Regions from separate parts of the Homo sapiens genome. Here regions 1, 2, 3 and 5 are each linked to region 4. The links come from fine-mapping of genetic effects on gene expression. A gene starts in region 4. Each other region holds a variant in brackets. All regions are shown on one strand. Distances are from middle to middle. Region 1 has its middle 20 kb from the start of FRG2B. Region 2 overlaps PAOX (polyamine oxidase). Region 3 holds the start of MIR202HG (MIR202 host gene). Region 4 holds the start of ADAM8 (ADAM metallopeptidase domain 8). Region 5 overlaps TUBGCP2 (tubulin gamma complex component 2).

Region 1 (5,963 bases), 330 kb after region 4:
ATTTTATTTCTGTTTGGAGGGATTTCTTTAGCCATTCTTGAAGGGTAAGTCTGCTAGCAACAAATTCTCTTAGTTCTCTTTCATCTGAGAATATCTTTATTTTTCCCTTCACTCCAGCAGCATGGTGTTGGTAGAAGAGCCGAGCCAGGACTAGCTTGTCTGTCATAATGTAAAAAAGTCTTGGAACATGTCCTGGGTCCAGGGTCTAAACCCCCTTGTGGCCTTTGGAACACCAAGCTCTGTGCCAAAGGGTGGAAGGCTGCCCTGTGGCACCACAGTCTAAGCCCAGGGCATAAAACCCCTCATGGCTTGAATGGAATCCAGGGCTCAGGGCGTCAAAACCCTCATAGCCTCTGGAATGTGTCCAGACTTGCTGGCTCCTTGCTTCTTGCTCTCCCAGGATCATAAATTGATTGTATCTTGAGTTGGAAGAACATGTTCTCTATTATCTCAAGTAGCAGAGCATGTTCCATGTGCTTCAAAGGAAATGCTAAACCGTCACAGCTATGCTTGATGCAGCGCTACCTTTCTACCCCCACATCTGCACATCCTCACCACCTGCTTCTTTGTTTGATCACCAATAAATAGTATGGGATCCCAGAGCTCAGGGCCTTTGCAGCCTCCATACCAGCATTGGCCCCCTGGACCCATCTTATGCACTCTTAACCTGTCTTTTCTCATTCCTTTGACTCTGCTGGACTTCGTAGCCCCCACAGCCTGGTATTGGGTCTGATCATGCCAGTATTCCTAGCTCCCAACATGGTGCTATGAATACCCTGGTGAAGGAACACTAGAGCGTGTGGAGGTGGAGGATGCATCATCAGAGGACACCTGAGGACGACTGAAAGAAGCTAGAATAAATGTTACAGGAGAAAAATATCCTTCTTTCAGTTCTGTCCAACAAGGACCTAAAGAACCATATACTGATTTTATTGCTCGGCTCCAAGAGACTATGCATAAAGCTGTAACTGACAGAACAGCTCAAGATGTTGTAATACATCTCCTTGCATATGATAATGCCAATATAGAGTGTCAAGCTGCTATTAAACCTATGAGACGGAAGGTCATTTGGCTGAATATATTAAGGCTTGTGATGCATTGGGGGTAACTTACATAAGGGCTACTCTTCTAGCTCAAGCTATGACTGGACTAAAGGTGGGAAAAATATGCCCTGTTTCTCAGGCTCTTGTTTTAATTGTGGGCAATTTGGACACACAAAAAAAAGTAATATAAAAAGGAAATCAACAGGCGAGGGATACTACCAGTAAGCAACAAAGAAGTCCTGGTATCTTCCCCTGATGCAAGAAGGGCAATCACTGGGGAAATCAGTGTCATTCTAAATTTAGCAAAGATGGGCAACCTTTTTTGGGAAATGGGAAGAGGGGCCCGCCTCAGGTCCCTCAACAAACCGAGGTGAATCCGGCACAGTCAGTGCCGTTACAAATGTACAATAATTGTCCCCTGCCACAGCAGGCTGTGCCGCTGCAGATCTTTGCAGCACAGTTCCCATTTCCTTACATCCTGGGGAGCCACCAAAGAAGGTCCCCACAGGAGTTAGGGGCCCTTTACCCTCGGGAACAGTTGGGCTATTGCTTGGAAGGTCTAGTTTAAATTTAAGAGGTGTCACTGTACATACAGGAATAATTGATTCTGATTATACCAGAGAAATTCAATTAGTTATTAGTTCCTCAACTCCGTGTCTGCTTCCTCAGGAGAAGGAATTGCTCAGTTATTACTATTACCTTACACCAAGCTAGGAAGTAGTACAGTAAAAAGAACAGGAGGCTTTGGTAGTACAGATCCAGCAGGAAAGGCTGTCTATTGGGTTAATCAAGTGTCTGACAAAAGACCTATTTGTACAATAACCATTCAAGGTAAAGACTTTGAATGATTAGTAGACATTGGAGCTGATGTCTCTATTATTGCTTTAAATCAATGGCCCCGAAATGGCCCAAAGAAAAGGCTTCAGTGGGTATTGTTGGCATAGAGACTGCCTCAGAAGTTTTTCAAAGTTCTTTAATTTTGCCATGCCAAGGGTTGGATGGCCAAGAAGGGACAATTCAACCCATTTACACCTATTCCTGTCAATCTATAGGGTAGAGTCTTATTACAATGATGGGTTGCTGAAATATCTATTCCTGTGGATCAGTATAGTAATAACAGTAAAGAAATGATGAGAAAAATGGGATATCTCCTGGGGAAAGTACTAGGAAAAAATGAAAATGGCCAACCAGAACCTTTAGAATTAAAAGGGCACACAGATCGAACTGGATTAGGGTATCATTTTTAGGAGAGGCCATTGCTGAGCCTCTGGCTCCCATTCCTCTTGTTTGGTTAGCTGCCAAACCAGTTTGGGTAGAGCAGTGGCTGCTGAAACAGGAAAAACTGGAGGCTTTAAAAGAATTGGTGCAGGAACAATTGCAAAAGGGACACATAGAGCCTACTTTCTCTCCTTGTAATTCTCTTGTGCTTGTTATTAAGAAAAAATCAGGTAAATGGAAAATGTTAACAGCTTTAAGGGCTATTAATGCTGTAATTCAACCCACGGGCATGCTGCAACCAGAGCTGGCTTCCCCAACTATGATTCCTAGATACTGGCCTCTCATAGTGATAGATTTAAAAGATTGCTTCTTTACTATTCCTTTAGCTACCCAAGATTATGAAAAATTTGCTTTTACTGTTCCTGCTGTAAATAACAAAGAACTAGTGGACAGATACCATTGGAAAGTATTACCAGAAAGCATGTTAAGTAGCCCAACTCTTTGTCAAACTTATGTCAGACAAGCTATTAAGCCAGTTAGAGAACAATTTTTAAAATGTGATAGTATCCATTACATGGATATTTTATGTGCAGCTGAAACTAGGGAGGAATTAATGTTATGCTACAAACAATTAGAAAAGGCTGTAATGGCAATAGGGTTAATCATAGCCCCTGATAAAATCCAAACTTCTACCCCCTTTCAATATTTAGTAGTGAAGGTAGAATAAAGTTATATTAAGCCTCAAAAGGTTCAAATTCGAAGAGATAATTTAAAAACTCTAAATGGTTTTCAAAAATTTTTAGGAGATATTAATTGGATTCATCCCACATTAGGCATTTCTACTTATGGTATGTCTCACCTCTTTGCTACCTTACAAGGTGATTCTGAGCTTAATAGTAAA[C/T]GCTCTGTATCCAAAGAAGCATTAGAAGAACTTCAATTAATTGAAGAAAAAGCACAGGTGAAACGAATTGACCCTACACAGCCATTACAGTTTTTAGTTTTTCCCACTAAACGTTCACCTACAGGAGTTATTGTTCAACAGAATGATCTGGTTGAGTGGCTTTTTCTACTTCACAATGCAACTAAAACGCTCACCCTGTACTTAGATCAAATTGCTTTACTAGTAGGACAAGCAAGGCTGCACACAACAGAGTTAATGGGATATGATCCAAATCGGATTATAGTTTCATTAAACAAACAACAAATTCAGCAAGCTTATATTAATTCCCAGGAATGGCAAGTTAATTTGGCTGGTTTTATTGGTGTTCTTGATAGACATTATCCTAAATTCAAAATATTCCAGTTTCTTAAGTTAACATCATGGATATTGCCTTCCATTACTCAAAAAGCCCCTATTGAAGGGGCCATTACTGTTTTTACTGACGGGTTTGGTAATGGAAAAGACTCATTTGTAGGACCTCAACAACAAGTTTTTCAAACTGGCTTCACATCTGCTCAATGGGCTGAACTTATGGCTGTAATTATGGTGTTAAAAACCTTTAAACAGCCAGTTAATATTGTTTCTGATTCAGCTTATGTGATACAAGCCACACAAAATATTGAATGTGCTTTAATTCACAATGTGACTGATGAACAACTTAATCTTTTATTTCATTCTTTATAGCAAGCAGTACAACAAAGACACTCCCCTTTCTATATCACTCACATAAGAGCACACGTTAACCTCCCAGGCCCTTTGACTAAACTTAATCAAAGGGCAGATGCACTGGTTTCTGCAGCTTTTGATGATGCACAGACAATCCATTCTTTAGCCCATCTTAATGCCACAGGTCTGAGAAAAATATATAATTTATCATGGAAACAGGCTAAGGAAACTGCTCTGCCTGTCAAGTTTTACATCTACCACATCAAGGAGCAGGAGTTAACCCTAAAGGTTTATCTCCAAATTCCATCTGGCAGATGGATGTAACACATGTTCCCGCCTTTGGAAAATTGTCTTTTGTTCATGTTTCAGTAGATACTTATTCACATTTTATCTGGGCCACATGTCAAACAGGGAAGCTACAGCTCATGTTAAAAGACATCTTTTATCTTGCTTTGCAGTTATGGGAATTCCAAAAAAAATAAAAACTGATAATGGCCCAGGGTATTGCAGTAAAGCCATGACTGCATTTTTTCAGCAGTGGAATATTACTTATACTACAGGAATTCCATGAAACTCACAAGGACAAGCAATAGTTGAAAGAGCTAATCATACCTTAAAAACTCAAATACAAAAACAAAAAGGGGGAAATCAGACATATAAATCCCCACATATGCAATTACACTTAGCTTTATTTTAAATTTACAAAAAGATCAACCCATGACTGCAGCTGAACAACATCTGACAGGACAAAAGGAAAATAAAAGGCTGGACAAGATATATGGTGGAGGGATGCACATACAAAAAGGTGGGAAAAAGGAAAAATAATTACATGGGGAAGAGGATTTGCTTTTGTCTCTCCAGGTGACAATCAGTTGTCTGTGGGTGCCCACCAAACATCTGAAGATCCATCATGAGCCACACCAGGAAGAGAGGACCCTGGGAAGAGCCAGAGCTCCCTATACAAGTGATGGCATGAATGAACATCTCAGAGACAAAGAAAAAGACTGTGAATACTCGCCAGGTGGATCTTCCAACATGGGGCCAAGTCAAACTGGCACAGATGGCAGAGGCCAACCTCAGAGCACAGAACAAACCAAAAACAACTAGTAAGTTAAAGGTGGCCATGCTGGCAGTACTGTCTGTGGCAGACCTTTTGGATTCAAAGTTGTGTCCAGCCACCTTTTATGTTAGCAATAGGAAATGTTATTCTTGACATAAATACCCATTCTATCACATGCCCCGAATGTCACTTGTTTAGTTGCATTAACTCAACCTTTGATAAAAATCAAACTTTCTTGTTAATTAGAGCCAGAGAAGGAGTTTGGATCCCTGTGTCTCTAAATAGACCACGGGATGCATCACCATCCATTCATATTGTAACTGAGATTCTTAAAAACCTGTTATCCCATTCAAAAAGATTCACAGTTGCTCTTGTATTTGCTATAATTGGCCTCATTGCTGTTACCACTACTGCTGCAGTAGCTGGTGTGGCTTTACACTCATCTGTGCAGACTGTTGAATTTGTTGATAAATGGCAAAAGAATTCTACGAAATTATGGAACTCTCAGGCCCAAATAGATCAAAAGATAGTCAAATCAGTGATCTCTGTCAGACAGTAATTTGGATGGGGGATCACATCCTAAGTTTAGAAACTAGAATTCAAATGCGTTGTGTTTGGAATATATCCGATTTTTGCATTACTCCTCATAGTTACAATGAGACAGAACACCAATGGGAAAGAATTAAACGCCATCTAGAGGGCAGAGAGGAAAATCTCACCTTCAATATTGTAAAACTGAAAGAGCAGGTTTTTGAAGCCTCTCAGGCTCACTTGGCCCTGCCCCCTGGCACTGATATTTTAAACAAGGCAGCTGATGAGTTGTCTGCAATCTATCCTCTTAAATGGATTAAGACCATTGGAAACTCTACACTTGTAAACTTTGTTCTAGTAACTGTGTGGTTGTGCTGTCTCCTTTTAGTCTGCAGATGTGGAAGCTGCCTCTGGACAGGAAGCCCCTGTAGAGAACAAGCAATGATAGCTGTGGCAGTTTTGCAAAAATAAAAGGGAGACATGTTGGTAGAAGAGCTGAGGCAGG
Region 2 (5,963 bases), 110 kb after region 4:
ACAAACTGCATGATGGCCGCCCTGCCGGAGGACACTGTAGTTTTTGAGAAGCCTGTGAAGACCATCCACTGGAACGGGTCCTTCCAGGAGGCAGCCTTTCCCGGGGAGACCTTTCCAGTGTCGGTAGAGTGTGAGGATGGAGACCGGTTCCCGGCGCACCATGTCATCGTCACCGTGCCCTTAGGTAGGTCAGGTTTTCAGCCCAAACCCCCATCCCAAGTGCCCCCGCCTCTGCCCTTACCCTGCCTCAGTTGGCTCTGGGGCGTTTGCTTGTGTACGAAGCTCACATTTTCGTTCTAGTAAGTTCCAGATAGGTGGAAGGAATGATTCTGTTATGTTTTGTAGCAATTACATGCTTTGGAATTAAGGGTTTCACCGTAAGAAAAAACGCGAGTAAGTATGCGTCCTGCTCGCTTGGAGGTAACCGTTTAGGGTTGCGACGGCCTTGGAGATTAACCACACCGCACTTTGCTGCAGACAGGAAAAGGCATGAAAGGCCTGGTCTGAAGGTCAGGCCTGGGGTGACCTGTTGAAGGAGCCGTGTGTATAATTCTGTTTAATTCTAGATCTGGTGCTTTAGATCTGTCCTTGAGTAGAGGTGGTTTGAAGCTGTTTTATAAAAGGTGGAGATGGTTGAAAACAGAGTTACTAGGATAATTGCTGTCAACTGGACATTTGCTTCCCACGGGTTTCACGCTGCCGTGGGTCTCTGCCTGAGTTATCTCATTGACTCAGGCAGCCTTGGGAGGTGTCTGTCATTGTCCCACATATGACAGATTTGAACATCTAGGCAAGTAGAGAGAAGTCACTTAATTGCCCAAGTTCACAAAGCTAGCGATTGCCAGCACTCACTTGGAAATCTAGGTGTGATTGACAGGTGTGTGATGAAAAGCAGGAGCCTCCGCAGCCCTAACTCCTGTCTCCAAGGGGTGGCTTTGCCCTCCCCGGGGCAGGGATGAGCACTGAGACCCCATTGCTGTTTCCCAGAGATGCAGTCGTCGTCCACACATGAACATCTGCTGCTGGCTGGGCACGGTGGCTCACGCTTGTAATCCCAGCCCTTTGGGAAGCTGAGGCAGGCGGATCACCTGAGGTCAGGAGTTCGAGACCAGCCTGGTCAACATGATGAAACCCTGTCTCTACTAAAAATCCAAAAATTAGCTGGGCATGGTGGCAGGCACCTGTAATTCCAGCTACTTGGGAGGCTGAGGCAGGAGAATCGCTTGAACGGGGGAGGCAGAGGTCACAGTGAGCCGAGATGGTGTCATTGCACTCCAGCCTGGGTGACAGAGTGAGACTCTGTCTCAGAAAAAAAAAAAAACCAAAAATCTGCTGCTCAGTTTGCCTGTTTTTGTTTTTTGTTTTTTTCTTAATAGAACTTGTCAGTGTTTCCAAATCAGCACACATAGATCTACAGCGGTCTTTTTTGTTTCCCTCCAGTGGCTTTGTTCATTCACGTTTGGAGTAAGTGCTTGCAGGCCCTGCTAAGTGCTGATCACGGGGACATTGTCAGTAGATACATTGCTACAACTGTGAGCATTTTGTTTATAAGGAGCCAGTTCACAAAAATTAGCCGTCGGGTGCCTGTAGTCCCAGCTACTCAGGAGGCTGAGGCTGGAGAATTGCTTGAACCCAGGAGGCAGAGGTTGCAGTGAGCCGAGATTGTGCCATTGCACTCCAGCCTGGGAGACCAGAGCGAAACTCCGTCTCAAAAAAAAAGGAGCGGGTTAATTTGCCACGCAGTGTTTTCTTGTCATTATTTCATAAGCATAGATGGAAATTTAGGTGGCCTTCACTTTTTCTATTTCATGCAGTTTTACATGTGCACTTAAAAACACTTGTGTTGGCCAGGCACGGTGGCTCACGCCTGTAATCCCAGCACTTCGGGAGGCTGAGGCAGGTAGATCACCTGAGGTCACGAGTTCAAGACCAGCCTAACCAACATGGCAAGACCCCATCTCTACTAAAAATAGAAAAATTAGCTGGGCCTGGTCGTGGGTGCCTGTAATCCCAGCTATTTGGGAAGCTGAGGCAGGAGAATCACTAGAACCTGGGAGGTGGAGGTTGCAGTGAGCCAAGATGGCATCGTTGCATTCCAGCTTGGGCGACAGAGTGAGAATCCATCTCAAAAAAAAAAAAAAAAAGAAAACCCAAAAAACAAAAAAACAAAAAACACTTGTGTGAAAGGTGGGGAACAGAGGCTCACGCCTGTAATCCCAGCAGTTTGGGAGGCCAAAGTGGGAGGACTGAGCCAGGGAGGTCAAGGCTGCAGTGAGCCCTGATCATGGTGCTGCATGCACTCTAGCCTGGGCAACAGAGCAAGACCCTATCTCAAAAACAAGGACAAAAAAGTAAAACTGCTTGTGTGAATGTGTCTGTAGGATAAACACCAGCAGGGGAAATTGCTGGATCCAAGGTCTGGACAGACAGGACTTCCGTGGAGGGCTTTATGTGATGTAAGAAGAGTCCAATTCTGAATTCCAGGTTTTCTTAGGGAACATTTGGACACCTTCTTTGACCCTCCCCTGCCGGCTGAGAAGGCAGAAGCAATCAGGAAGATAGGCTTTGGGACCAACAACAAAATCTTCCTGGAGTTTGAGGAGCCCTTCTGGGAGCCAGACTGCCAGCTGATCCAGCTGGTGTGGGAGGACACGTCGCCCCTGGAGGATG[C/T]TGCCCCTGAGCTACAGGACGCCTGGTTCCGGAAGCTCATTGGCTTTGTGGTCCTGCCTGCCTTTGCGTACGTTTGCTCCCTGAGAAGTTCTGCGAGTGGCTGGCTCATAGGCCTTCATCTGATGGAGGACGCAGCAGTGTGTCTGTTCACTGCAGGGTATTTCTAGGGGGTTTAATGGGTAGGGTTCCCATGAGCGCCCCCCCACCAGGTGCTGGCTGCACCTGGGCCTGACCCCTGCGGGGACAGATGGCGCCCTGCTGTATGCGGGTTGTCAGCGTCCCTCAGGGCCCAGAATGTGTTTGTAGACTTGCAGGCAGGCTCAGTCTTCAGTCAGTGGGAACGTGTTTACTGGAATGTTGCAGGGAGCTGGGGCTTGTAGATACAGAAGAACTTTGAAACACCATCTGCCCATACGTGGGGAGACAATACTTAAATGGGATGAAATAATTGAAGGAAACATTCCGAGAAGTAATGGAATGGGAGACCCACAGAGGAAGGGCTCCCTTGTATGGGCTGGCCCTCTTAGAAACAGCATATCTAGACCACGTGGCGATTCAGGAGTTAATCCCATGAGTGATGTGGGGATGGAGGGACTGACTTTTCCAGCAAGATTAAAACACAAAGACAGCCTGATATAGTCAGATGGCAGAAATAATTCCACGTTTCCACTGAGAGATGCCGCAGGAGGGGGCACCAAGTTCTTGTTCTGAAAGACCCGGGATGGGGTGGGATGTAGGGCATGCCTGCCAGATGGTTCATAGTTGCCATCCACTGGGAGCAGGAGGCTGCAGGCTGCAGACCAGCCCTGCACCTGTGACGGGGGAAGCCTGTGTGTCTCCTTCACACTGAAGAGAAAACTGGCATTTCGGCCAGGCGCGGTGGCTCATGTCTGTAATCCCTGCACTTTGGGAGGCTGAGGCGGGTGGATCACCTGAGGTCAGGAGTTCGAGACCAGCCTGGCCAACATGATGAAACCCCGTCTCTACTAAAAATACAAAAAATTAGCCGGTGTGGTGGCACGCACCTGTAATCACAGCTACTCAGGAGGCTGAGGCAGGACAATCGCTTGAACCTGGGAGGCAGAGGTTGCAGTGAGCTGAGATTGTGCCACTGCACTCCAGCCTTGGCAACAAGAGCAAAACTCTGTCTAAAAAAAAAAAGAAAGAAAACTGGCATTCCAGGTGTTGAGATAGGCCTGGGTTGCTGGTGGGCAGCCGGGTGGGTGACTGTGTGTAGAGCCACCTGCTCCAGGCCCAGCCCCACCTCCTGTGCTCTCTTGCTTAGGACATCAGTGGGACCCTGAGTGCTTTGGTGGGACCCTGTCTGTGGCACGGGGTGGTAGCTGTCCCATCCTTTTATATACCTGCAAAGGGTTGGGGATCTCAAAGAGCTTTTGTTTATGTGAGTCACATCTGTAAATTTACCCCATGATAAATAAAATATTTTTTTGTTTTTGAGATGGAGTCTCGCTCTGTCCCCCAGACTGGAGTGCAGTGGTGCAATCTTGGCTCACTGCAAGCCCCACCTCCTGGGTTCACGCCATTCTCCTGCCTCAGCCTCCTGAGTAGCTGGAACTACAGGCACCCACCACCACGCCCGGCTAATTGTTTGTATTTTTAGTAGAGACAGGGTTTCACCGTGTTAGCCAGGATGGTCTCGATCTCCTGACCTCGTGATCCGCCCGCCTCGGCCTCCCAAAGTGCTGGGATTACAGGCATGAGCCACCGCACCCAGTCACCACATGATAAATTAAATTATTATTTGAGATGATAGTAACAAACCTATTCTATGTTAGCATAAATAACATTTTTAAATGAATATTTTCTTAAAATTTAATGAAGGGTGGCAGCAGTTTTGTCTTTTCTGCAAAACTTTTTTTTTTTTTTTTTGAGACAAGGTCTCTCTGTCACCCAGGCTGGAATGCATGGAATGCAGTGGCGTGATCTCAGCTCACTGCAACCTCTGCCTCTTGGGTTCAAGCGATTTTCCTGCCTCAGCCTCCCGAGTAGCTGGGATTATAGGTGTGTGCCACCATGCCCAGCTAATTTTTGTAGTTTTAGTAGAGACAGGGTTTTGCCATGTTGGCCAGGCTGGTCTCGAACTCCTGGCCTCAAGTGATCCGCCCACCTTGGCCTCCCAAAGTGCTGGGATTACAGGTGTGAGCCACCACGCCCGGCCTTTTCTGCAAAACTCTTCAGTGTTACACTTAATAGAAGACATCTGGGTTCTCAGGCCTCCTCTGCATTCATTCTGTGGTGATGTTTTATTTTGGTTGAAACATAGGAAGAAAATGTGGATCTACATGGATATGTGGTTGGAAGAAGGAGTGATATTTGTTTATTTATGAGATGGAGTTTTGCTTTTGTCGCCCAGGCTGGAGTGTAATAGCTCGATCTCGGTTCACTGCAACCTCCGCCTCCCGGGTTCAAGCAATTCTCCTGCCTCAGCCTCCTGAGTAGCTGGGATTACAGGTGCCCACCACCACACCCGGCTAATTTAGTATTTTTAGCAGAGATGGGGTTTCTCCATGTTGGTCAGGCTGGTCTCGAACTCCTGACCTCAAGTGATCTGCCCACCTTGGCCTCCCAAAGTATTGGGATTACAGGCGTGAGCTACTGCGCCCGGCCAAAGGAGTGATATTTAAATAGCTTTTGAAATGATTGTGGGTATTCTTTGATACTACCTCAAAAGTCAAGATGTAGTAGTAATTCCTTAAAGGTTGGCCAAATATGAAATTGGAGAGCACACCAGTGAATTTTTTGTCTTCTGTGACACTGAAATCTATTTGTCTGTCTTGCACTTTAAATGGATCTTTTATCTATCCATGGCTTTAGTCATTGGAAAATACTAGGCTGGGCTTGGTGGCTCATGCCGGTAATTCCAGCACTTTGGGAGGCCAAGGTGTGCAGATGGCTTGAACTCAGGAGTTCGAGACCAGCCTGGGCAACATAGCAAGACCCAGTCTCTACCAAAAATACAAAAAGCTAGCCAGATGTGGTGGTGCGTGCCTGTGGTCCCAGCTACTGGGAGGCTGAGGTGGGAGGATTGCTTGAGCCCAGGAGGCGGAGGTTGCAGTGAGCTGTGATCAAGCCACTGAACTCCAGCCTGGGCAACAGAGGGAGGCCATGTCTTAAAAAAATAAAATATATATATATTGGTTCATGTAGTCTTCCAAATGTTGATACATTTCATTATACAATATAAAAAATCAAATTTATTAACATACCACTGATCTCAGAAAAGTCTTTCAGGATTGGGAAGCTGTTATGCTGTTGGTGGCAGAAACAAGCTT
Region 3 (5,963 bases), 30 kb before region 4:
AGGCTGCTTGGACTCGGCCCCTAGCCGGCCCCAGCGTCTCTTCCGAGGCCCAGCACTCACTCCCATTCTGAGCCCAGACTTGTCGGCTTCCAGGCCGTGAGGAAGTGGCAGAGTGCTCAGGGCCTCCTAGGCCACGCCAGGACCTCTGGAGCAAAGTGGGCTCACTGAACAAAAGCAGGCCTTGGCCTCCTTTAGGGGTGTTTGGTGGGGCCCTGCACAGCCCCCAGTCAAAGAAAAATCACCTGGGCCGGGCGCGGTGGCTCACACCTTTAATCCCAGCACTTTGGGAGGCCGAGTCAGGTAGATCATGAGGTAAGGAGTTCGAGACCAGCCTGGCCAAGATGGTGAAAACCATCTCTACTAAAAATACAAAAATTAGCCGGGCACGGTGGCGGGCACCTGTAGTCCCAGCTACTCTGGAGGCTGAAGCAGGAGAATGACGTGAACCTGGGAGGCGGAGGGTGCAGTGGGCCAAGATCGTGCCAGTGCATTCCAGCCTGTGCAACAGAGCAAGACACCAACTCAAAAAAAAAAAAAAAAAGGTAAGTACCAGAAGCGCTGGCCCTCCCCCCATTGCCTCTGCAGCCTGGCTGGGAGGCTCTGCCACCCCCACCTCAGAAAGGTTCCGTTCATGCCCCAGAGTGGCGGTCAGCTTCTCAGGGGACTCCTGGGGCTCCTGAGTACTCCCCAAGGCAGGGTCTCAGAGGGCTTCCTCTTGTTCCCAGGCCAGGAGGACCCTCATTCCCAGCCTGGCTGTCCACAGAAGCCACAGTGAGCCACTCCCCCATGGTGCCCCTCAGCCCCCACCTACCATTCACAGGACAACGGCCTCAGGACCGGGGGGCTGTGGCCAGGAGGCCTCCGTTTCTGGGACGCCTTCCAGCCCCGTCCTGGCCCCTGTGCTCCTTCCAATGCCCTCAGCAGGGTCTCAGTGGCTGGACCTGATACGTGGGCATGTCTTGGCAAGCCTGGACAGCCACCTTGGTGGGGTCTTGGCAGGAGCCCTGCCCATCTTCCTGGGGGAATTCATCCCTCTCCCTGCCCAGCAAGCCGCCCACCCTGCAGTACAGGTGAGGGCACACGGCCCAGCTCACCCAGCCCAGATCCCAGGGAGGGCATAGCCCTCAGAACCACAGCTCTTCTGGGGAAATGGGCACCATACTGGAGAGTGGGGCCTCTCCTTTCACAGCCCAGCAGGTGCTGTTAATTACACCGCAGCCTTGCAGGGACAGAGCTGGGCAGGGTACGAGCGCAGAGTGAGGCGGAGGGACGGAGCCAGGCGGGGTACGAGCGCAGAGTGAGGCAGAGCCTTTGGCTCCCTGGATCCAGCCGTGCCTGCATCCCCATTCTGCCGACACTGTCTGGAGTAACAGCTGCTGCTGCATGTCCGCACAGCACAGCGAGGTAATACCTGCTTTATCTGTGCAGCTTTAAAGCCCTATGTTCAGGTGTCCTGTGGAGAGTGACTCGAAGGCCTGCAAGAGACTCCCCAGCAGGGCCGACCTCCACCGTTCCCTAGGGGGCAGGGGGAGCAGCCGAGCTCGTTGGGGTGGGGGGCGTGGCTGCCCTTCCACATGTGGCCTGCGGCCCCCCGGCCGGAAGCACCCCACCCCTCTGCCTGCTGCCTGATCTTTCCCCTCGGACACCCCAGCTGCGGGCTGTGAGGGAGGTGGGAGGTGACTATCAGATGAGATTAGTGCTAGGCTTGGAGAGGAGGCGCAGCCTGGGGAGGCAGCCCCTGATAACCGGCCTGGGGGCCTCTCAGCCAGCTCATTGCTCCATTTGCTGGGCTCATTGGTGATAAAGGCTGTGGCCTTCAAAGACCTGGGCGTGGCCCTGCCGGCTGACGAGGACTCTGGCTGAAGGGTGGGGCCTCCCCGACTCCCGTTCAGGCCTCCTTTTAAGACAGCAGCCGACTGTCATTCTTTAAACAGGGCTGATGAGGGACCCCCTGTCCATTTTTCTTCAGTGGGAAGTCAAGACCGCAGTCCCACCCTGGCCATTGTGGAGGCCTGGAAGCTGCGGGGCCCCCGCCCAGGACAGACCAGTGCCCCCCACCCTCACAAGCCGTCCCTCTGGGCTCTCCCAACACTGCCGGCCGGTCCCAGGCTCTGGTCATCAGAAGGGTGGCCCCAGACCGGTGCCCAGCCCAGGCCCCCAACCGAGGCCCCAGGAGCCGTTTCATCCCCCCGTGTTTATGCATTTTTAACTAAGTTCCCCCAAGTCCACACGTGACTAATGTGACGTCCAACCACCGTGAACGAGAGGAGACCAGCACGACAGAGCTGCTTTGTCAAAATTTGTATTTATTGTCAAAACTTTACCACATCTCACACATTTAAATGAAATTAGCTCTACTGAAATTTCTGACCAGAAAATCAACTCATACCCATGATTACAAAAGTAATAAAGGTGTTAAGAAGCAACAGCCAGCCGGGCGCTGTGGCTCACGCCTGTAATCCCAGCACTTTGGGAGGCCGAGTGAGGTGGATCATGAGGTCAGGAGTTCAAGACCAGCCTAACAAGGTGAAACCCTATCTCTACTAAAAATAAAAAAATTAGCCGGGTATGGTGGCAGGCGCCTGTCGTTTCAGCTACTTGGGAGGCTGAGACAGGAAAGTCGCTTAAACCCGGGAGACAGAGGTTGTAGTGAGCCGAGATCGCGCCACTGCACTCCAGCCTGGGTGACAGAACGAGACTCCATCTCAAAAAAAAAAAAAAAAAAAAAAAGCAGCAGCAGCAAAAGTGCACAGACCCAGCGTGCACGCGTCTCCGCCACGCCTCACTCCCGTCTGCGCCTGGATCCACCGCCACCCGCTTGTATAAAAAGTGGGCCCCACACGGTGCAGCTTCGTAGTCTGCAAAGAAAATGTCCAAAGAATGAGTTGTGGATCCTCCCAGCCAGAGCCCAGATCCCAGGCACCCCGCCCCACTTCCCCCGACCACCAGGCGGCCCCAGAGCCCAGGTTGTCCCTCCCGCCACCTCCTGTAATGGGTCCACCCCCAACTCCGGTCAGACTGGTCACAGAGCACC[G/A]CCCAGCTCCAGCCCTCCTCTCTGCATCCTGGGTCCCAGCTCAGGGGCTGCAGAGATCAACCCAGGGCAGAGGCCTGGACCACGTCCTCCCCAGACACTTCCAGAACCCACACAAAAGCACACATCCACGTTTCCCTTGTTTTAGAATATTTGGCCCCTTTCTGCCCCAAGGATGTGGGGGTCAAAGCCCCGGGGCTCCCGGCCGAGGAGAAAGGAAGCAGGTGGAGTCCCAAGTCAGGAGGCAGGTGCTGCTGGAGCAGGTGCAGGTGCACTGGTGCAGGTGCCGCTGGGGAGGACCCGACCGCCCCGTTTTCCCATGCCCTATACCTCTTTAGGCCAGATCCTCAAAGAAGTATATGCATAGGAAAAAGGAACGGCGGGCGGCTCTGAGGCGGGCCGGCTCTTCAGCACTGGGAGGTGGCTGTCCTGGGGGAGGGTCCCGTGCCGGGCAGCAGGGAGAAGTCGGGACTGAGGCCTGGTGGGCACGGAGATCCTGTGGGAGTGAGGAGGGCAGAGCCAAGCCAGGGCCGAGTTCCCAGAGGCAGGCCTTGGGCCTCGTCTTACCTGTGGTCCAGCCTCCTGGGCCGCTGGCGCTGGGTAGCCCGTGAGCCTCGTGAGCCTGGGAGGAGCGGTGGAGAACTCTCTGAGCCGGGAGTTCTGCTGCTGCCGAGCGAGCTCCACATTTATGCGCAGGGGAGACCTTGGCCGCCGCTGTCACATGCAACCAGAGGGCTGCTCTGTGCCAAGGACCCCGTCGCACCCCCGCACCTGCCAGATTGGGGCACAAAGACCTGCTGTGAGAAGAGTGCTGAGCCAGGGCCCGCCGGGCGGGCGGGCGGCGAGGGCTGTGGGCCGGGGGCTGCTGGCCCGGGAGCTGGGATGGGGCCAGCCTGTCCCCCCGCCTCCTCCAACCCTTATCTCCCCACGCGCTTCTGCTTGCGTCAGGGGCCCGGAAAGCACACGTGAGCAAGAATCGCTTGTCCAGGGAAGGGGCCGACTCTCCTTCCTGGGCCTGCCCAGCTCAGCAATAAGCAGCACCTTGGGCTGCACCCGCAGCCTCCTGGCTCACAGGGACTCTCAGAACCCCCAGCCAGCGTGTCCAACACTGTCCTGGCCACTGGGAACCAGACCCCACCCCCAGGGTAGGTGGCCCTGCTTGGCCTGGGGCGGCCTCCACAGCTGGGGCTCCCTGAGGATTCACGGCATCAGGCGGACACTGGTCCAGTGAGGCCCAGAGCCTTCCCCGGGCCACAGAGCCCGCGAGCACGTGGAGAGGGGCCACGCTCTGCAGCCTTGGGGGCAAGAGTGCAGGGTCGGAGGGAGAGGGCCCCTCAGGGACAGCTGGCCAGACCCACAGCTGCCCACACAGAGCGAGACCACACAGGCAGGCAGACACCCTCTCCTAGGGCCAGGGAGCCCCCGGCCGAAGGGCCCAGGCAGGCAGCAGAACTCCTGCAGGTCTGGGGCTGTCCCTGTGTCCCAGGCTCAGGACACAAGGAAGAGGCCCAGAGGAGGCCAGGGCACAGGGCTTCCACAGGTGGCCAGGGACAGGGCTTCTGAACCCCAGCCAGCGGTCTCTCCCCAGGACGTAGGCAAGTGGAGGCTGGTGAAGGAACAAGGCTGAGGCCTCAGAGGCCTCTTCAGTGACCATGTCCTCGGGGAGACTCAACGTCGCTAGGCAGGCCCGTGCGGGCGCCTGGCCCCAGCACCTGTGATCTGTAGGGCCAGAGTCTCAGGACTGACCCGACGCAGCACCCACATGCGGCAGGGACACACAGAGACCCCCATAGACACACGTAGACACATATAGACTCACATAGACACACACAGAGACACACACAGACACACATAGACACACACAGAGACACAGACATGTAGACAGAGACACACTCAGACATGTAGACACACAGAGACACAGATGTACACAGAGACACACACAGACACGCACACAATGGACCCACACACCCCCCAGGTGCAGCGGGCCTTGACTGTTGTACGCGAGAGTCTCCTGTCCCCTGAGTGGGGAGGGGCGTGGGGGGCATGAGGGGCCAGGTGGGGCTGCAAGACTGTCCAGCGCCCTCCTGATGGCCCCCGAGGCGGCCAGGAGCCCCGTCTGGGGAAGGACGAGTGGGCCCTGCTGGGCAGGAGGAGCCATAGGGACCATGGGGATGATGGACGATGGATGATGACCCAGCCACCTGCCAGGCCACTCTGCAGACCCCCCATGGGAGCAGCCTCTGCCCCCACCTTGTGCAAACCGTTGATCTGCACGCCAGGCCAAGCAGGTGATTGTCACGACCAGCGATGGCCACAGAGGGGTGGGGGGGAGCACATCAGTCGGTCACAAGCCCTCCTGGTGGGGACATGGGGCTGGGGACAGGCCCTGCTCAGGGCTGGTCCCCCACAACGAGGCCCAGAGTGGGCACGGGGGGCTGCTGGGCTCCATCCACCTGCTGGCAGGCTGAGGGTTGCCTTCTGGGGGAGGAGGGAACGTGGAGCTCAGACACACGCATGCTCACACTCAGGCTCACGCACACTCCTGCAGGCATGCTCACATCCACACACACGTGCATGCACAATTCACACACTCAGGCTCACCCACACTCACTCCTGCAGGCACGCTCACATCCGCACACGCATGCACAATTCACACACTTATGCTTACCCTCACTCACACACGCCCATGGTCCCCCACCTCCATGAGGTCCGAGGATCCGAGGAAGAGTCCTTGGGGGGCTAGCAGGGGAGGGGCCCCACTCCTCCAGACACCTAGAACCTACACAGAGAGCCCCAGCATCACACTTCGGGGGCCTGGGCTCAAAAGGCCCCTGCAGAGCCCCCCATCCTGGGCCTCCGCCCAGCATCAGCCCTCCCTGTTTCTCCCCGTTGTTTCTCCCCGTTTCTCCCCGTTTACAGCTGCCCGGCGAGG
Region 4 (5,963 bases):
GAGCAGCCTGCCCGGGCTGTGCCCACCTCAATCCTGGGGGCCAGAGAAGCTCAGCTGGGGGGGAAGGGGTGCCGGCCTCCAGCCCCAGGTCAAGGCTCCATCCTGGAGGGTCCACAGCCTCAGGCAGGGTAGAGGGTGGAGGGTGGAGGGTAGGGGGCAGGGGGTGGGGGGTGGAAGGTGGAGGGTGGAGAGTGGAGGGTGGAGGGTGGAGGCGGGGGGCGGAGGGCAGAGGGTGGGGGGCGGGGGGTGGAGGGTGGAGGGTAGGGAACGGGGCTGTGCTGAAGGCGACCGGCGGAGCCCAGCACTTGGGTAGACAGGAAGGACACGGTGCTCCTCGGTCCTCCCAGGCCTCAGTTTCCCCATCTGACCACGCATGGGTAACGACAATGCCCCTTCCCCGAGAAAGCATAGGGTGGGGGAGGCATAGCCTCAGCCAGGCAGCAAAGGAGGTGGGTGGCGGGGATAGCACGCACAGGCCCCTCCAGCGACAGCTGCCTGCCTCCAGGACCCATCCCTTCCAGCAGCTGCCGGACCTGGTGGTGCCTGCAGAGCCTCCTGCTGGACCACTGCATCTCCAGCCCCCATGTGCAGGCTGGGGCTCGGCCTGCAGAGCTCTGGGACAGCCTTAGCTGTGCCACCGGCTGGATGAGCCCAGGGCAGCGGGCAGGTCGGTAGTAGGTTCCCCGGATGCTGAGGTAAGGACAGGGCTGGGGCCGGAACTGCCCTCCCTGGAAACAGGTGCACACATGCATATGCCGTGCACATGTGTGCACACCCACCCACTCAGGCTTCAGGAATCACCCTCGGGCAGCCCCAGTCGGGGAGGGGGGCATTCTCAGTTTCTAGCCCTGGGAAACCCCCGCCAGGCCCCCCCCCCAACACAGGAAGGTGTGTCAACTCTGCGGTGAGCCAGCGTCACTTCTCAAAGAGGAATTTGGCTTATCAGCCTCGCCAAGTGAAACTGGGGAGGGGCCCGGGGCCAGCACAACCTGCCCCTGCTCCCTTCCAGGGGTCCATAGAGCTCCTGAAGGAACGAGGAGGCTGGGAGCCCTCAGGCAGTGCTGGAGGGAGGAACGGAGATGGGCCCCAGGGGGCTAGAGCTGTACAGGGCAGCCCCAGACACCCACTGGCCTCTCACCACTTTCTGTAAGCTAAAGCTCCTTTCACAAAAATAGGCTCAGGGGCCAGCCAGGGACCCTCCCCAGGCCAGCTTAGACTCACCAAGTGGGAGGGCAGAGCTCGGCGGACTCGGGGGCCTGGCAGACGCCACGGCAACACGACCTCATACTGCTCCATGAGGGCCCAGGGCCGGCTGGGGGCAATCGCTGCAGGAGGGAGGGTCAGCAGGCATGAGGGGCCGGGGGGCAGGTTTCCTTCCCAGAGGCCTCCTGGGCCCTCAGATTCTGTCTCTTGCTGGGCTTGACCCTCCCCTGGGGAACTCACCAGATAGCTCTGGGACAAAGACTCAAGTGAGGGTTCTGTGCCTAAAAGACCCCAGGAGCGCCCCCAGGCATGGCCGGTGGGCCTGTGTCCTGCAGCACCCACACACAGTGCTCAGAGACGCTGTGGGTGCCAGCGGGTGCCAGTGACTCCACAGGTCTCCAGGCTGTCTCAGATCTCTGGAGGGGCCCGAGGGCAAGGATGAACCTTCCCCCCAGGGAGGAGGACTCGGGCCGCCGACCTGCCCGTTTCCATTCTCCTCCTCCATTCTTCTGATCATCTGATCGCATCTAACTGGGGAGCAGGAAGTGCCTCCCGGAGGCTGTTCACCTCCCAAGAACTGGAAACTCCCTGGTATCCGAGAGCAGAGGGCAGGGTCCCAGCATGCAATGGGCAGGGTTTCGGAGACCACCAACCCCAGGACCCTTTGCTCCCATTAAAACACAATAGTGGACGTGTCTCCATGACCACATCTCCAACCTGGAGAGGCAGCAGGGGAGCAGCCAGCCCCTATCTGCCCAGGAAACTGGCGGGAAGCAACCCGGCCTCCAGCCTGAAGCTCCTCAGCACACCCCAGCCCAAGTCACTCCAGGAGCAGGGGTGGGATCCAGGGTCAGCAGCCCCATGTCCTCCCCCAGGCAGGAGACGGGTCCCCTCAGCCCACACCCCTGCACTCCAGGCCTCAGCTTGTCTGCCCTCCCTTCCCTCCTCGGCTAAATAGTGGGGGTGGGTAGCCCCACAGGTGAATCCCAGGAACCCAGGGCGCCTCGCGCAGCAGGTGAAGCGTCCTGCTTGGCCCGGCCCCGACCCCACTAACAAGCTCAGAGGCGGGACTTCCCTCTCACAGTTCACCTTTGAAGGTTCCCTCCGACCTCCCCGGCCTCCCCGGCCCGGGGCTCTCCACCCAGAGACCACTGTGCACCTGATGGCCCGCTCCCAGGGACCAGCCCGAAGCCGGGCCAGGGTGCGGGGTGCGAGCAGGCCAGGGGCTCGGGGTCCGCGTCGCGTCCTGCGGGGAGAGCCACCCTGCCCCGCGCTGCGCCCGGGACGGTTCCCTGGAACCACTCACCAGGCAGCATCATCGCGCCCAGCAGCCAGAGCCCGAGGCCGCGCATGGCCGGGTCGGGGAGCAGAGGCGGAGGTGACAGCCCCGCGGGACACGGTCTGGTTCCTGCGCTCCTGGCCCGAGGCTCTTTTCCGCGCGCCCCGCCCCGGCGCCCCGCAGCCAATGGGCCCCTCGGCCGGTGGGAGGGGCGGGGCGCGCGGCACCTGGGGGCGGGGTCCGTTTCCCCTCTCCCCACAATCCAGCATCCTCCCTTGCACAGGTGAGGAAACTCAGGCACAGCCTGTCCCAAGTCCGGCCAGAGCCCCGAGAGGGGGCCTCTCGAAGGACCCGGCGGCTGGAAGGAGGTGGCGCCAGGCAGGTCCTGGAGGGGAAGGGACTTGTGAGGGCCGCCTGGCGGTTTCAGGAGAGGGGGTCTCTGATTTCCTGGGGAACAGAAAGCCTCAGGCAGGGGCAAGTCATGGCTTTGTGGGCATAGGTTCAGCCCTGTGGGAAGCTCTGCCACCCTCCCCCCCAAGCCTGCGCCCCCTCCACCAGGCTGAGGCCTCACCGGAGTGGGATAGGCATGGGCCCGCAGGCGTCCAAGTGGGGAGGGGGAGCCCTAGGTGGGGGTCCCAGCCCAGGTGATGGCAGGTGCAGGGGCCGTCCCTAGCCTAAGATCCCCAGACAGCAGCTGACGCTGGCCGACGTGGACCAAAGCCTGCAGCAGCCCACCGTGGCCTGGCTCCGGCGTCTCCAGGCCTGCGGCCAAGCGTGCTTGCCCTTGGTGACCACATTCCCCGTGGTGGGCTCAGCCTCGAGGGTGCAGGTTTGGGCTGACACCACAGCTCCCCAGACGGTCCACCCAGGACCCCTCCCTGGGGCTTTCACAGCCAGGCCGCCCTCCTGGAGTGGGAACAGTGGTGGTGGCAGGAAAGGCAGCTCAGATGACCACACAGGGCGCTGCTGACAGATCACATGGGGGGGGGGGGCCTCAGGGCCTCCCTGGGGAGAGGCAGGGCAGGGCCAGCAAGGGGCTGGAGGGAGTCCTGCCTGGAGAGAGGGCACCAGGGCAGGGCGAGTCAGGGAACTGCACGGGCCTAGGGGCAGAGGACAGAGGTCAAGGGGCAGTGGCAAGAAGAGGCCGGGGCCTCGGACGTTATCCTGGGAGGACAGGGAACCCGGAGGATCTAAGCTGGCGTGAGTGATGCTGTCACATTTTGTCTCAAAGCCATTCTTACCCTAATGTGAATGGCATGAAAAGCAAGAAAGCAAGGGCTGGCACTGGGCCGCAGGTGACTTCTGCTGCCTGGGGGTGTGTCCGCTTGCCTGTGTGGCACAGGACGAGGTCCCCCAGGCTGCCGAGAGGCTCCCAGGTAGGGCTGGGGATACTGGCCTGTGCCTGAGCTCATGCAGGTGACCCTGTTATTATAGAACAATGGCCAGCTGGCAATCACACTTCCCTTCCTTGACCTCATGGTGCAAGTTACTCAACAGCAAAGTGCAAAGGCGGCACGCTGGCCACATCAGAGGCACAGCAAGGCCCCTGCCGACGCTGAGCTACCAGGGATTTATTCCTAAAAAGACAGGACCAGCTTGGGCCAGAACAGGCTCCTCCCGCGCTGAGGAAGTTCCACCCAATCCCACAGAACACAGCTCTCCTCTTCAGCAGGTGCCGGGGGGTCTGGGAGCCTGAACCCCACAGCCCTGGAGGCTTCCCTCCCCTCCTCCTATCACCACCTGCAAACCCCACTTCTCAAGGCCCAGGGCTTCCCAGACCCCAGGACACAAGATCAGGGGTTTCTGGGCCTCGGGGCCAGGCAGGAAAGCTAGCAGGCTCCTCTGCTCACCAGTCCGGCATTTGCACAACACTGAGACTGACAGCTTGGGTTGCTGATAAATGTGTTTACTCACAGGCCAGACCTGCACAGCCTGCAGACAAGGAGGAAGCGGTTTGTGGCTGGAGAGTTGGACACCCCCACCCCCACTCGGCGGTGCTCTCAGTGAGGCAGCCCCGGGTGAGAGCTGCCCACAACCCTTGTTCCCCGCAGGATCCTGTTCTAGCTATCCTTTCTCCCAACCTCGCCTCCAGGGCCCTTCCTCACTGCCCAAGGGGGCCGAGGTGCTGAGAGCTGAAGGTGACAACAATACACATGCAGGTCAGCAGGAAGGGGCAGCTTGGCCAGAATGTAACCAGAGCAGACCAACCTGGCCGGGCAGCCCTGAGGCTCCCAGGGCCCTGTCACACTGGGGATGGCGGTGCTGCCCACTGTAGCCCTGGAGGTGGGAAGACAGGGCAGATGATCGCCCGAGGGGGATTGGGTGTCAGTCTGCTGAGTAAGTTCTACGTAACAAGGCGGTACCGGATAGGGCGGGGTGGGGTTTCCAGCCAGCAGCAGAGCCTGCCCCTCGACCCACTCCCACGGAGGGGGAGGTGTGGGCTCCCAGGGTGCCTGAGGGCCCTGTCTGTGGCCTCCTGCCCTGGACCAGTTGGAGCAGCAGCAGGAGGAGGGTCGTGGAGGCGGGTGAGTCCTCAGGAGAAGGAACGGGGCTGCCTCTGGGGCCAAAGCAAACCCGACACCCGATGCCCGGTGGGTTTCCACAACTCCCTGACCGTTTCCAGAGGCTTGTCCCGGTTCCGACAGACCTCAGGAAGCCCGGCCCCAGCTCACCCGGAAAGATGTGGACACCAGGCCTGGATCTTACCCCACATGCATCTTTGCTTGCTCCTGGCTTAAACACCATGTATTTCCACTTTGAGGCCAAAAACACCCAAAAAGGTGATAGTGTAATTTCAAAAAGCAAACAGATTAGCAAATCCAGGGAGACATCCACCCTGCCTGGGCAGCTTCTATAAAACGAAACCCAGCGCCTTGAGAAACAAAGTGAGCTGAGTCAATCATTCCTGCTTTATATTTAAACTGCAAAGACAGAACACAGAGCATTCGATTTGAAAATTCTGGACCCATTTGCACCAGTCCCTGCTGACCCCACACCCTTCCTTCCTGTCACAGCCAGGGCTCACTGTGCGGTGACTGCGACCCTGGGTGCAGGAGCCGGGGGCCCCCGCAGGACAGGCACTTGGGGGGTGGCCTTCTGGCTCCTCTCTGCAGACAGGCGCTCCAGGCGCTCCGTGTAGAAACCATTGAAGTCAAGCCTGTGAGGAAGGACAGTGGAGCTGGGGTGCACACCCCTTCTGCGGGTGCATGCTGGGCAGCAGGGGTGTGGAAGGACGGTGCAGCTAGGGTGCACACCCCTTCTGCGGGTGCGTGCTGGGCAGCAGGGGTGAGGAAGGACAGTGGAGCTGGGGCACACACTCCTTCTGCGGGTCCGTCCTGAGCAGCCCTGCTCCTACCATGGGGAAGTGTTCAGCTACAGAGACCATAAGAGGCCCTGCAGGGGTGAGGGTGAGGCACGCTCCTAACTAATGTTTCCACAGGAAGGTTTTCAGTCCTGTTCAGTCCTGCTCAAAGGCACAAAC
Region 5 (5,963 bases), 22 kb after region 4:
CCGCTAAGGGAGCAGCTCTCTCTCCCTAAGTCTTCACAGTTGGGTTTTCACAGTTGGATTATTACTGAAAACACTGCACAAAGCAGACTGCTTTGTTTTTTTTTTTTTGAAACAGGGTCTCGCTCTGTTGCCCAGGCTGGAGTGCAGTGGCACGATCACAGCTCACTGCAGCCTCGACCTCTCAGGCTCAAGTGATCCTCCCACCTCAGCCTCCTGAGTAGCTGGGACTACAGGTGCACGCTACCACACTCGGCTAATTTTCACATTTTTTGTAGAGACTAGTCTCGTCCTGTCGCCCAGGCTGGTCTCGAATTCCTGGGCTCAAGGAATCCACGCACCTCACCTCCCTAAGTGCTGGGATTACAGGTGTGAGCCACCATGCCTGGCCGAAGTAGACTGTTTTCCATACTTTTCATTAACTTACAGCATGGTTTTCTATACTTCTCATAACTTACAGCAGGGTTTTTCTATACTTTTCATTAACTTACAGCAGGGTTCTGTTTGCTTGGGGATGAGGAAAACAGGTGGATTTCACGTCACCGTTCTCCAGGGTTTCCGGCAAAGGCAAGGGTTGGCCCCTTGGTGCCCACATTGCAGAGCCGTGAGTAGTGGGGAAGCAGACCACGCTCCATGCTGCCTCTTGAGTTTGGACTAACGGGGATGGGGCAAGATAAGCAGGTATGCTCTGTCCTTAGTTTGTGAAATCTCATTTTTCAATCTAAAAATGTACTTGACTAGGCGTGGTGGCTCATGCCTGTAATCCCAGCACTTTGTGAGGCCAAGGTGGGCAGATCACCAGAGGTCAGGAGTTCGAGACCAGTCTGGCCAACACGGCAAAACCCCGTCTCTACTAAAAATATAAAAATTAGCCAGGCGTGGTGGCGCCTGCAGTCCCAGCTACTTGGGAGGCTGAGGCAGGAGAATCGCTTCAACCTGGGAGGTGGAGGTTGCAGTGTGCCGAGATCACGCCACTGCACTTCAGCCTGGGCGACAGAGCGAGATTCCATCTCAAAAGAACTAAAAATAAATAAAAATAAAAATGTACCCATGAATTGTGACAGATGAACACATCCCAGGTCCCCAATAACAACGTCTTGAAATGACTGTGTGGTCTCACCCGCATCTTGTTTACACGAACACTACTTAAGAGGCCTCTGAGAATACTGCTGTAACAGAATCTATGGGAGTCATGAATCGCTGTTCAGAAATAAGTGCTGCACACAATTCTGATGCCTGCAGGTCTGCACCAGGGCACCAGGATGCCGGCTGGGGAGGGGCCTGCTGCAGGCTGCCCCACAGCTCTGGCAGAAGGGACAGGAGAAGAACCCTCAAGGACCCGGGTGAGCCGTTCTCTGCTGCCATCCTGGGATGGGAATATGGAGGCGGCAGCCAGTCAGCATTGAGCCTCACAACCTGAGGAAAGGCAGGCCCGGGGGAGGGCTGGGCCTGCAAAGTGTCCTGCCCAGAGGCCAGAAATAAACACATGACATACCTATCGGCAGAGCCCGGAAATCAACGCATCACGTACCTATCGGCAGAGCCCGGAAATCAACGCATCACGTACCTATCGGCAAAGCGGTGTCTGTGCTGATGCCAGCACCAATCAGGAAATCCCCGATCAGGGCAGGTCTCTCATACACCCATGCTGGGAAGATGGGGAGGTGCTGGCCTGAATTTTTTTTGTTCTGCTTGTCTCGAAGCATCTTTCTTTTAAGTTCCAGAGACTAGCAAGGACATTTTAAAAAACAAAACCAGAAAGATACACTTTAGCGCAAACACTCAACTAAAGACATGCATAGAAGCTAGCATCTACGGCAAAGATGATTACTCAATTCAACACCCACAAAGGGTCAACCACATAGAAATGAAATGCGCCTCGACATCCCTGCCTGCCACAACGTGAGGGGCTGGGGACAACAGGGCAGATGGGGAGCCCTAGCCCCTCTTCTCAGGAGTGCAGGTCCTGCAAGGGCCCCCCTGGGAAAACATGAGCACCAGCAGTGGGAACCACGGGAGAGGGTGCACCTAGGCACAGAGCCGCTGTTTCAAAGGAGGGCGCCCTGTGAACAAGCTGAATTGCTTCTTTCTGGCAGTGACTAGGTCTGAACACCACTTGATGGGTGAAGACAGGCTTCAGCAACAGACATGCATCCTTACCCTGCCGGAGAAGGGCCCCAGCGTGACAGGATGGCTCCTGACATGTGGTCAGAGAGCCTGCCCTCCTGCGCCAGTGGCCGCCAGAGGCTGATGGGGTCGGCCTGGGCTGGCCCAGCTTTCGGAAGCACTGACTCCCACTCAGGGCTGGTCAGGGACACGGGCAGATGCAAACTGTCTCTGCACGTGGCAGTAAGACCCAGTCTTCTGCCACGGCTGAGGGAGACGTGGACAGAGGCCTAGCACCATGTCCAGCACAGAACGTGCCCAGCAAGAACCGGCTGGGTCCTTGGGAGCCGCTGCACTCAACACGCACCCAGGAGGCTAGGACGCCTCAGGGACACAGCTCCAAAGGGAGTTTAAAGGTCACAAAGGCAGGAACGTGGCAGCTCTAATGAGAGAGACTGGGAGATGACTTACGTCAAAAGACCAGGGTAGGGCATAAAATCAAAACCAAGAGCAAGTAGCAAATACAGAAGGAATAATAAAAATTACTGTATTTTCGAGAATCTTGAAAATATAATGATCTGAAAGCATTCCCTCAAAATTGTCAAAAATTGGAGGAGGGAAATGGGGAGTCAGGATTGGGTAGGCTCAGAGTCACGTGGCCACCTGGCAGCACAACTCCCACGTGGGTCAGAACCTTGCTGCTATTGATTCTTGTGGTCCAGAATTCTTGGTTAAAAAAAAAACTAAACATATAGAGCTAGGTCATGATCAAGCATTAAGCCTTGGCCTCTCTAAGGGATTCATTTTCAATAAATGACAGAGAGACATGTCCTTCCAGCAGGGGCCCGGCACAGCACTGAGTGTGGGTGCCTGTGGACGCCACGGACACAGGACCTGCTGCAGCATGGAGCCTGTGGACAGCCATGGACGCAGTACCTGCTGCAGCGTGGAGCCTGTGGCCACGCTGCCAAGCTGCTTCCTCAGTTCCTCAAGCTCCTGCATGGAGATCTTGGAGGCCGCGGCAGGGACGTTGATGCTGGTGGTACTGCTGCCCACAGCAGCGGCTGCAAGCTCAGCTCTTTCTTTTGCATTCTGTTGTAAGTACTGCAGAGTCTGAAAACATGTAAAACTGTGTGTTCACACTGGGCCAGCACCTCTTTGGCCATAGGGGGAGAGTAGGGACGACACCACCAGGACGGCTCCCCAACCCTGACAGGCACCCATTAATAGCAAAGCGACGCGTGCGACAGGCAGGAACTGAGCGTGACACATGCGGGAAGCTCAAAGTGCCCCAGAGGCTGCTTCTCATGTTTACACCCAACATGGGTTATCTTTCATTCTGATTCACCAAAAATTTCCTACATGGCCTAGAAGCGTTACTGGTGTGAGCGAGGAAGAGCTGACAGGAAGATGGCGTGGAGTGAGCAGGAGACGCGACCCCACTCCCAACATGGGCC[G/A]TACGGGCGCAGTGTGGCACGTGGCATGGGCACCTACCTCTTTGTCTTCCGTGAGCTTTGACAACAGGTACACCAGCGGGTCAAGGTTCCTTGTATTTTTAGATTTCAGTTCATCATATTTCTTTAGAAAGTCTTCTGGAGTACGAGAAAACTCTGCAATTTTAACCTCAAAAGCACAAACATGAGTGATTTAATGACGGTAATTAATAAAGCACTGTAAAAAAAAACCTTTACGAAAATTGAACACAATAAGCCAATGGAATTAAATTGGGTAGGTTAAATAATTATCCCTCTGAAATAAACTAACAAAACTCATCTCCATATTGTGTTAAACTTATCCATGTTTTGAGCTAGGCAGTGGCTCATGACTGTAATCCCAGCACTTTGGGAGGCCGAGGCTGGTAGACTGCTTGAGTCCAGGAGTTCAAGACCAGCCTGGCCAAAATAACAAAACCCCATTTCTACAAAAAGATTCAAAAATTAGCGAGGCGTGGTGGCACTTGCCTGTGGTCACTACTTGGGAAGCTGAGATGGGAGGATCACATCAGCCTGGGAGGTTGAGACTGCAGTAAGACAAGATCGTGCCACATGCATTCCAGCCTGGGTGACAGAGTAAGACTCTGTCTCAAAACAAAACAAAACAAACCTTATCCGTATTTCCCATTATGGTTCCTTTCCTTTTGTGCTTCTTCGTATTATTTTAATTTTTTCTAGAGACAGGATTTCACCATGTTGCCCAGACTGCTCTCAAACTCCCAGGCTCAAGCCATCCACCTGCCTCGTCCCAAAGTGCTGGCGTTACAGGTGTGAGCCCCTGCGCCCGCCCTTTTATGCTTCTTCAGGTTTGTACTGGAGAGTAGCGACTTACACTTCCCCCCAGTAGTTTATGCGTTCATTGTATACATTTCACTGTATTCCCTTTTATGCTGCTTCAGGTTTGTACTGGAGAGTAGCAACTTGCATTTCCCCCCAGTAGTTTATGCGTTCATTGTATGCATCTCACTGTGTTCCCTTTTATGCTTCTTCAGGTTTGTACTGGAGAGTAGCGACTTACCTTTTCCCCCCAGTAGTTTATGCGTTCATTGTCTGCATCTCACTGTATTCCCCGCAGTAGTTTATGCGTTCATTGTATACACCTCACTATGTTCCCTCTGGAATTTGTTATTATGTGCAACCCTAGGGGTTATGCTTTTTCTTTTGGACGGAGTTTCGCTCTTGTTGCCCAGGCTGGAGTGCAATGGCGTGATCTAGGCTCACCGCAACCTCCACCTCCCTGGTTCAAGTAATTCTCCTGCCTCAGCCTCCTGAGTAGCTGCATTACTGGCACGCACCACCACGCCCTAATTTTTGTATTTTTAGTAGCGATGGGGTTTCTCCATGTTGGCCAGGCTGGTCTCGAACTCCCAACCTTAGGTGATCCACCCGCCTCGGCCTCCCAAAGGGCTGGGATTACAGGTGTGAGCGACCGTGCCCAGCAGGGGTTATGTTTTACTCAGTGATTTACAATGCTTCCTTCAGAATGAACTAAACATGGGTGTCCCCAAGTCTCTATTCCACTCGGCTAATTTGCCTAATTATCCTTGTGCCATTGTTAACCTGTTTAAATAACTGAAGCTTCATAATGTATTTTTTAAAATAGACTTCAAATTCAAAATCATTTTTACTGAAAATCTATACTTCTGAATTACATATTATCTGAATAAAGAAATAATACCTTAAAGGCATTTCAACATGGTTAATACCAGTCCCTCCCTTTTTTTTTTTTTTTTTTTTTTTTTTTTTTGAGACAGAGTCTCACTCTGACGCCCAGGCTGGAATGCAGTGGCACGATATCTCGGCTCACTGCAAGCTCCACCTCCCGGGTTCACGCCACTCTCCTGCCTCAGCCCCCCGAGTAGCTGGGATTACAGGTGCCCGCCACCACACCCAGCTAATTTTTTGTATTTTTAGTAGAGACGGGGTTTCACCGTGTTAGCCAGGGTGGTCTTGATCTCCTGACCTTGTGATCCACCTGCCTCAGCCTCCCAAAGTGCTGGGATTACAGGTGTGAGCCACCGCGCCTGGCCCAGTCCCTCCCTTTTTATCCACAGGAATGCACATGTCAGGACTCTCCCACCTCATGGCTGCAGGGGACAGAGTGGGGAAGAGGGAGGGTTCTAGGCCCAGCTTTCTCCATAGGCCTCCATTTACTCATCTGCACAGTGGGGTGAATCACAGGAGCTGCTGGGGGGAGTCAGGAGAATCAGAGCTGAACACACACACAGACCAAGTGCTGTCTGCCATCGTTGCCGGTACCATTGAGGCCACCCAGGAACGGGCACTCACCCTGCATCTTGCACGGTACACAGCCCTGCACCAGGGGCAGTGCTCACCCTGCACCATCCTGACCCCGGGGTGGCGCTC

The links.
Region 1: its variant is fine-mapped to the expression of ADAM8 in whole blood (TOPMed, PIP above 0.99).
Region 2: its variant is fine-mapped to the expression of ADAM8 in whole blood (TOPMed, PIP above 0.99).
Region 3: its variant is fine-mapped to the expression of ADAM8 in whole blood (INTERVAL, PIP above 0.99).
Region 5: its variant is fine-mapped to the expression of ADAM8 in whole blood (TOPMed, PIP above 0.99).

Annotation. Positions count from the first base shown.
Region 1 is chr10:133,603,416-133,609,378 of GRCh38, forward strand. No RefSeq gene overlaps it. Among named protein-coding and RNA genes, the nearest start is that of FRG2B, 20 kb to the right of the region's middle. The variant C/T (reference allele first, on the strand shown) is at 3,163.
Region 2 is chr10:133,381,476-133,387,438 of GRCh38, forward strand. PAOX (polyamine oxidase) reads left to right here. Exons shown (of 7, transcript NM_152911.4): 3 at 1-184; 4 at 2,485-2,737. Among named protein-coding and RNA genes, the nearest start is that of PAOX, 5.2 kb to the left of the region's middle. The variant C/T (reference allele first, on the strand shown) is at 2,671.
Region 3 is chr10:133,244,193-133,250,155 of GRCh38, forward strand. MIR202HG (MIR202 host gene) reads right to left here and starts at 3,693. Exons shown (of 2, transcript NR_108079.1): 1 at 3,599-3,693; 2 at 2,287-2,858. It overlaps MIR202 (microRNA 202), which reads right to left and starts at 3,428; the gene lies at 3,319-3,428. RefSeq lists enhancers at 118-1,317, 649-1,501, 3,070-3,584, 4,101-4,615 and a silencer at 2,865-2,984. The variant G/A (reference allele first, on the strand shown) is at 3,035.
Region 4 is chr10:133,274,263-133,280,225 of GRCh38, forward strand. It overlaps ADAM8 (ADAM metallopeptidase domain 8), which reads right to left and starts at 2,606. Exons shown (of 23, transcript NM_001109.5): 1 at 2,510-2,606; 2 at 1,222-1,325. The coding sequence starts at 2,555. TUBGCP2 (tubulin gamma complex component 2) reads right to left here. Exons shown (of 18, transcript NM_006659.4): 18 at 4,373-5,639. The coding sequence ends at 5,504. RefSeq lists enhancers at 99-748, 786-1,045, 2,049-2,696, 4,011-4,060, 4,551-4,630 and a silencer at 2,296-2,855.
Region 5 is chr10:133,296,388-133,302,350 of GRCh38, forward strand. TUBGCP2 (tubulin gamma complex component 2) reads right to left here. Exons shown (of 18, transcript NM_006659.4): 3 at 3,598-3,726; 4 at 3,040-3,216; 5 at 1,565-1,724. Among named protein-coding and RNA genes, the nearest start is that of TUBGCP2, 9.5 kb to the right of the region's middle. The variant G/A (reference allele first, on the strand shown) is at 3,561.